2 linked regions of the Homo sapiens genome follow. The protein of the gene in region 2 interacts with the protein of the main gene of each other region in a pairwise test. Each region holds a gene or a part of one and is shown on either strand. Other genes may lie near its edges.

The links. The genes of interacting proteins can lie anywhere in the genome.
Region 1: the proteins of MIPOL1 (region 2) and STMN3 interact in binary tests that used the Homo sapiens proteins (3 or more experiments, as listed by UniProt).

The regions. Positions count from the first base shown.
Region 1 is NC_000020.11:63,639,212-63,643,424, reverse strand, and holds the end of STMN3 (stathmin-3), read left to right. Parts: intron 1-1,125; coding exon 1,126-1,317; intron 1,318-2,027; coding exon 2,028-2,087; 3' UTR 2,088-3,713; downstream 3,714-4,213. UniProt on the Homo sapiens protein: Exhibits microtubule-destabilizing activity, which is antagonized by STAT3.
Region 2 is NC_000014.9:37,267,437-37,270,936, reverse strand, and holds part of MIPOL1 (mirror-image polydactyly gene 1 protein), read right to left. Parts: intron 2,280-3,500; coding exon 2,144-2,279; intron 518-2,143; coding exon 412-517; intron 1-411.

The DNA of each region.
Region 1 (4,213 bases), on a different chromosome or scaffold from region 2:
CTGTAATCCCACCTACTAGGGAGTCTGAGGCAGGGGAATTGCTTGAACCCAAGAAGTGGAGGATGCAGTGAGCCGAGACTGCGCCACTGCACTCCTCAGCCCGGGCGACAGGGTGAGACTCCATTTCAAAAAACAAACAAGAACAAAAAAAGAAAGGGATGGAGAGGAGGAAGGGTTCCGAGGCGGCCACCTGGAAGGAGCAGGAGCCTCTGGTGAGGGTGGGAGGCACCCTTGTCAGGGCCAGCAGGATGCTAGGGGGTGGTCCCCAGATGGGCCCTGGGGACGTCGGGTGGGGCATCCCTCTCCCAGACAGGGAAGCTGGAGGAAGGGCCTCATGTGTGAAGACCCTGAGGCTTGCTGGAGGGCGGAGGGGCCCTGGGAGAGGTGGGTGTGGGCTCCAGGTCCCCTCCCTGCAGCCTCCCCTCCCACCAGCCCCTCTGAGACTGAAACAGAGATAAAAATGTCCTTTTGGGGGTGCCACCCTGGAGGCCAACGCATTGGGCAGGGGAAGCGGCTCCGTTCCCTTCCCGGTGAGGCCAGAGACCAGGGTTCACAGGGCTGACTAGTAGGGACTGGCATGTGGGTGCGGGTCCTGCTGCCCCGCTCTCCTCCCAGGGGTCACCAGCCGGCCCCTCCCCCAGCATCCCTGGGGACCCTCCGCTCCTGGGCACCTAATTGGGAGCTGGGAACCCGGTGTGTAACAAGCAGCTACTCTGCTCAGTGGGCGGATGTCCGAGGAAGAGACAAAGCTCAGAGACCGCCCACAAGTTTAGGGTTTCTTGCTGCTGGTCCTTGGAGGGGCAGACGCGCAGGGCAGGGTGTGCAGTGGCGGCAGGGTATGGCGGGGGCCCTGGGCGCAGCCAGGACCGCGGGACCCGCGCGCGAGGCAGGGACGGGGGCGGGGGCGGCGGATCGCGACCCCCTGGCCCTGCCCCGACCACAGGCCGGATGGCAGGCGAGGGTTCCCAGGGCAGCGCCCGGGGGTCCCGGCGCCCACCGAGGCCTGGGCAGGTGGAGGCGCCAGGTGAGGCGAGCGGGCGCTGGGCGGGAGGCGGAGAGCAGGGAGGAGTCCGGCCGGGCAGGGCCCGGGGTTGCCGCTCACGCGCGCCCGCCGGCCCCGCACAGACGCAGGAGGCGCAGGTGCTGAAGCAGCTGGCGGAGCGGCGCGAGCACGAGCGCGAGGTGCTGCACAAGGCGCTGGAGGAGAATAACAACTTCAGCCGCCAGGCGGAGGAGAAGCTCAACTACAAGATGGAGCTCAGCAAGGAGATCCGCGAGGCACACCTGGCCGCACTGCGCGAGCGGCTGCGCGAGAAGGTGCGGGGGCGGGGCCGGGGCGGAGCTCGGAGCGGGCAGGGGCCGGGGCGGGGCCGGGGCGAAGCTCGGAGCGGGCAGGGGCCGGGGCGGGGGCAGGGCTAGCAGCAGTCAGGGGGCGGGGCACTGGGCGGGGGCGGGGCCAGGGCGGAGCTCGGAGCGGGCAGGGGCCGGGGCGGGGCCGGGGCGGAGCTCGGAGCGGGCAGGGGCCGGGGCGGGGGCAGGGCTAGCAGCAGGCAGGGGGCGGGGCACTGGGCGGGGGCGGGGCTAGGGCGGAGCTCGGAGGGGCGCAGAGCGGGGCCGGGGACTCCGAGGCGCTGAGCTGGGGTGGGGGTCGGGGGCTCCTCCCGTGTTTACTGGGCGTCCCCAGCAGCGCACGAGGCAGGTCCAGAGTCTGGTCCTGGCGGGACAGTAACTAGCCGCAGTAATAGATGGCTAAATTCATTATATTGAAAGTGCCCTGAAGGAAGCTCGGCTCCGGTACGAGCTAGAAGCGGGGCCCAGCCAGCTCCCAGGAAACCCGTCCTTGGTCCCTGGCCTTGCTCTGCGCCTCCCCGGTGCTCCCGCCCCCTCAACTCAGTCAGGGTCCTGCCGAAGGCCAGCCCGGATGAGGCCGGGCGGGTGCCAGGGCGCCACGGCCTGCGCGCCTGGGGGTTCCCGGAGTCGCCCCAAGCCACCCCCGCCCTCAGGCCCTCCCGCCCCCTGTCCTGCAGGAGCTGCACGCGGCCGAGGTGCGCAGGAACAAGGAGCAGCGAGAAGAGATGTCGGGCTAAGGGCCCGGGACGGGCGGCGCCCATCCTGCGACAGAACACGTTCGGGTTTTGGTTTTGTTTCGTTCACCTCTGTCTAGATGCAACTTTTGTTCCTCCTCCCCCACCCCCGCCCCCAGCTTCATGCTTCTCTTCCGCACTCAGCCGCCCTGCCCTGTCCTCGTGGTGAGTCGCTGACCACGGCTTCCCCTGCAGGAGCCGCCGGGCGTGAGACGCGGTCCCTCGGTGCAGACACCAGGCCGGGCGCGGCTGGGTCCCCCGGGGGCCCTGTGAGAGAGGTGGCGGTGACCGTGGTAAACCCAGGGCGGTGGCGTGGGATCACGGGTCCTTACGCTGGGCTGTCTGGTCAGCACGTGCAGGTCAGGGCAGGTCCTCTGAGCCGGCGCCCCTGGCCAGCAGGCGAGGCTACAGTACCTGCTGTCTTTCCAGGGGGAAGGGGCTCCCCATGAGGGAGGGGCGACGGGGGAGGGGGGTGATGGTGCCTGGGAGCCTGCGTGTGCAGCCGGTGCTTGTTGAACTGGCAGGCGGGTGGGTGGGGGCTGCAGCTTTCCTTAATGTGGTTGCACAGGGGTCCTCTGAGACCACCTGGCGTGAGGTGGACACCCTGGGCCTTCCTGGAAGCCTGCAGTTGGGGGCCTGCCCTGAGTCTGCTGGGGAGTGGGCATTCTCTGCCAGGGACCCATGAGCAGGCTGCATGGTCTAGAGGTTGTGGGCAGCATGGACAGTCCCCCACTCAGAAGTGCAAGAGTTCCAAAGAGCCTCTGGCCCAGGCCCCTCCCCACCAGGGCTTTGCAGATGTCCTTGAAAGACCCACCCTAGAGCCCTTTGGAGTGCTGGCCCCTCCTGTGCCCTCTGCCCTGGTGGAAGCGGCAGCCACAAGTCCTCCTCAGGGAGCCCCAAGGGGGATTTTGTGGGACCGCTGCCCACAGATCCAGGTGTTGGAAGGGCAGCGGGTAAGGTTCCCAAGCCAGCCCCAACACCCTTCCCACTTGGCACCCAGAGGGGGCTGTGGGTGGAGGCCTGACTCCAGGCCTCTCCTGCCCACACCCTCTGGGCTGAGTTCCTTCTTTCCCTTGGACGCCCAGTGCTGGCCTTGGAGGACGGTCAGCTGGAGGATGGCGGTGGGGGAGGCTGTCTTTGTACCACTGCAGCATCCCCCACTTCTCCACGGAAGCCCCATCCCAAAGCTGCTGCCTGGCCCCTTGCTGTAAAGTGTGAAGGGGGCGGCTGAGTTCTCTTAGGACCCAGAGCCAGGGCCCTCAACTTCCATCCTGCGGGAGGCCTTGGCCGGGCACTGCCAGTGTCTTCCAGAGTCACACCCAGGGACCACGGGAGGATCCTGACCCCTGCAGGGCTCAGGGGTCAGCAGGGACCCACTGCCCCATCTCCCTCTCCCCACCAAGACAGCCCCAGAAGGAGCAGCCAGCTGGGATGGGAACCCAAGGCTGTCCACATCTGGCTTTTGTGGGACTCAGAAAGGGAAGCAGAACTGAGGGCTGGGATATTCCTCATGGTGGCAGCGCTCATAGCGAAAGCCTACTGTAATATGCACCCATCTCATCCACGTAGTAAAGTGAACTTAAAAATTCAATCAAATGAACAATTAAATAAACACCTGTGTGTTTAAGACATGGTTGAACTGTCTGTGTGTGTCCTGCACCTGTGGGGTCGGGGGCAGCTGCGGGCTCCCTGTCTGGGAGTGAAGATCTGCTCTGTGTGTATCTCCAGACTGAAGCTGGTTATAAATCTTATTTTATCATCATGATTATGAATTGTTCTATTGACAACAGTGATTTTAAGATATGAGCATGTAAACTACACACAAGCCCACTTTCCTCTCTGGAATCCAAGGGGTGAGGTGTCAGGGTGGGGGGTGGCAGGGCCCGCTGCTGTGGGTGGGGCTGGCGGGGGCTCCCCTGCCCTCCCTCAGGGCGGAGCCCTCCTCAGGGGCTTCCTGTTGTTCAGGACTCTGTGGCCCGCCGCTCAGGAGGAAAGGGCAGGGCCTACATATGTATGCATCTGAGGCTGGAGCCTCTAGGCTGTGGGACTTCCTGACATGGGGGCAGGTGCTACGAGACCCCTGGGGCTGCACCCCACTGTTCTGTGGACTCACCCCACTCACCCCATTC
Region 2 (3,500 bases):
TGAATATGTGACTATCTTCATACAAAGGAGAAGTATTTCCTCTCAACGAGCTAAAACAATAAGTGGTATTTGAACTGCTGGTTGAAAGGTAGAGGCACTGGTAATCATTATTTCCCCTTGTTTGTTCAGCCCCTTCCAACAAAACAAACAACCTTTTTGTGATTGGATTGACATGGTGTTAACAATGCATTTAATGCCCAAATCAGTATGAATACAGGTAAAGCTCTCACTAATACCAGTACCAGGATGTTAAAGCCACCTATTTTCTAAGCAGCCAAAAAAAAAAAAAAAAAAAGGAGAGCTTCCCCTCCTTTGGCAAATAAGCCAGTATGCTAGTATTCACCAAGATACATCATATAATAACCTTGTGTGTGATTCTTCAAGCCATGTGTTAATACTCCTCTACTATACCTGCTGTCTTTTCAGCAATTTTAGCTTCTGTTTCTTTCTCTTGGAGTTCCAGCTTAAACTTTAGTTTTCTCTGTTCTTTATCTTCTTTAGCCAATTTCTGCTGAAGCTAAAGCACATTGAAAAAAATCATGGATTCTTATTTGACAAATGTCTTGCAAAAATATAATTAATTTCAAAGTTTTTGGTTTTTTCTTAATTCTTATATTATATTTAACTTCCTAGATAGATAACTCCAGAAAAAAATTTAAAATTTAAGTTATTTATAAAGTAATAATTACCTGTAGTTATACAGAAATTGTAAAAACATCCCAATATACACTTAATTTATGTGTATATGTGCATGAACAGGCAAATTAAATTCAGAGGACCAACATTATTCTTAAAAATAACTACTGCAGTTCAGATGTGGTTGCTCACGCCTGTAATCCCAGCCCTTTGGGAGGCCGAGGTGGGCAGATCACCTGAGGTCAGGAGTTTGAGACCAGCCTGGCCAACATGATGAAACCCCGTCTCTACTAAAAATACAAAAAATTAGCTAGGTGTGGTGGCGGGCACCTGTAATCCCAGCTACTCGAGAGGCTGAGGCAGGAGAATTGCTTGAACCCAGGAGGCGGAGATTGCAGTGGGCTGAGATCGCGCCATTGAACTCCAGCCTGGGCAACAAGAGTGAAACTCCATCTCAAAAAAAATAATAATAATAATGACTACTGCAAAAGCAGTCTCATTCATCCTTTTTTCTTAATGCAAAATATTTGGAAGGGATTTGCCTAATAAAATAACAGATAGCACTGCTTTACAGTTTATCTTAGTAAATCCAATATTCTGAAACAAAATTAAGACAATAATCTTAATATCTGATACAAATCTCCCTTTGAGAATACTACCCCATCATATTCCATTTAAATTGACACTGACACCTGACTCATAAGTGGCATGTAATAAATAACTGCTAAATGAAAGTACAGAAAACATCTCATACAGAATCCCTCCACATGTTTTTTTAATTCCTCCCTAGGTTTTTGTCATTTTAGTTGTTTTCCTCCAAACATGATCAACATTCCTAACATCATGCTTCAGTTTGATTAGGTTACACAACTAGAATATTAAAATCAGAGCAGTATGTAGAGGTTAAAAAAAAAAGAAGACACAGAAAATGCACATTATTTAATAAAATTATTTAATGATCACATGACTATAACTAGAATAAGAGTCAGAACAGAAGATAAAACATAACGTGACAAATTGGACTGGACAAAATGCAGCAGTATAAGATTAACACAAGGTAAATGACAATATTGCCAAGCCTTGCTACTGAAATGTTTAATTACATGTATTATTGAGGTCAAATATAGGGCATGGATACTAATAAAGAAAAAAAAATTAAGATAGTAACATGAAACCAGTGCATTCTATCTCCCATTCTCTATAATACTGAAGCAGAGTTTTACTAAAACTTGAATCTTTTTTTTTAAAGATATGTATACAAGGAACCAGGGGCTTATGAAAAAGGAAGTGCTAATGTGGACCAGCAAGGTATGAAATCAAAAAAATGCTTTCATTTTCAACCCCTTAACTCAACCATACCCTGATGGCAAGGTATGGCAAAAACATAAAGCTACTGTTAAATGATTAAAGTGCAAAATAAAACTGAATTATGATGGGCAACAAAGGAAATTTAGAAGATCAACAGCTAAACCCATACTATACAATTATCAGACTTTCCATATTATACCTTTTTATTGCTTGTTCTGAGAATATCCAATTCTTTTAGAAGAAATGCTATTGTCTTCTCTTTATCTGAGTCTGAAGTAACTTGACAAGGAGTCATACATTCATAATGCATATCATTATGTCTATGTTCCATAACGCTGTAATAAAGAAACTGATTAACATTTCAGAGTAAGATAAACTAATTTTTTGACATTTTGTATGCTACTTGAGAACAGTATCAACTTGTAAGCAAACACCATAAAGGAAGGGAAAGGAAAAGAGATGGGCTGTTTTTTTGAAGGCCTTATATTAAATTTGTAAGCACAGGTAAATTTTGGAGTCACTAAGAAGAAATTTAGTGACGGCTGGGACAGTCAGTGCAGCTCTATTTACCACGTACATCTCCTGTTGTAATTATGCTAGATATCTCATAATCTGACTTTAGCCCAATCTCTACTATTTACTTTACCCATGTGGTTATAAAATGTTTATCCCTACTTCATTCTTCTGTGCTTCTACTCCTCAAAAGGGACTCCAACCTACACCTTAGTAAGAATCTGAAAAAGGGATGGGAACATATCAATACATCTATTTCATTATATGTTACTATCTATTAACATATCTACTGAATAATTTGAAAGTAGAATAAAAGTTCCTATGCAAAAATCTGTTAAAAATAGTATGCTGCAAAATATTATTTTGTCTAGACTGAAAATATATTAGTCACTGAAACTTCTTTTTAAATCTAATAATATTTTTCTAGCACATGACTAATTATCAAAGTTCCTTAATCTCATGGGTAGAAGTATCAGGTATCACAAATTCAAATCCTTTCATGAGCTAGGTAGGCAAGGTTACTGGGTAAAAGCTGAGAAAGTAAAATAATGAGGAATGCAAATGGTAGAGAACAAGGCCCTTTTAAAAGCATCAAATTCATTTAAATGAAAAATAGCGCTAACCCAAACCAAAATGCATGTTTGGGCTTACCTTGTCCTGGAGCTGCCAGTTTTTTACTTTCATGAATGATATGTCATGTATATCAATTTAACAGTTATTTCCAAATACATAAAGAAAGGTCACAGAAAATAATATTGAATAAAATAGAATTAAACCTGTCTTTCTTCAGATGCACTTTGTGCTTTTTCACTTAGTTAACTAGACATATTATATCCATACCATGGAAACAGTAGAAAACCCTGGTAGATTCGCCAAGTTCTAATAAGTTTAGAATTAGCCAACACCAAAAAGAAAGAAGGAAAGAGGAAGAAAGGGAAGAAGGGAGGGAGAAAAAGTTCTTCCAATTCTAACTTTCTCTTTTTTTTTTTTTCTTCAGACAATCTTGCTCTGTTGCCTAGGCTGGAGTACAGTGGCACAATCTC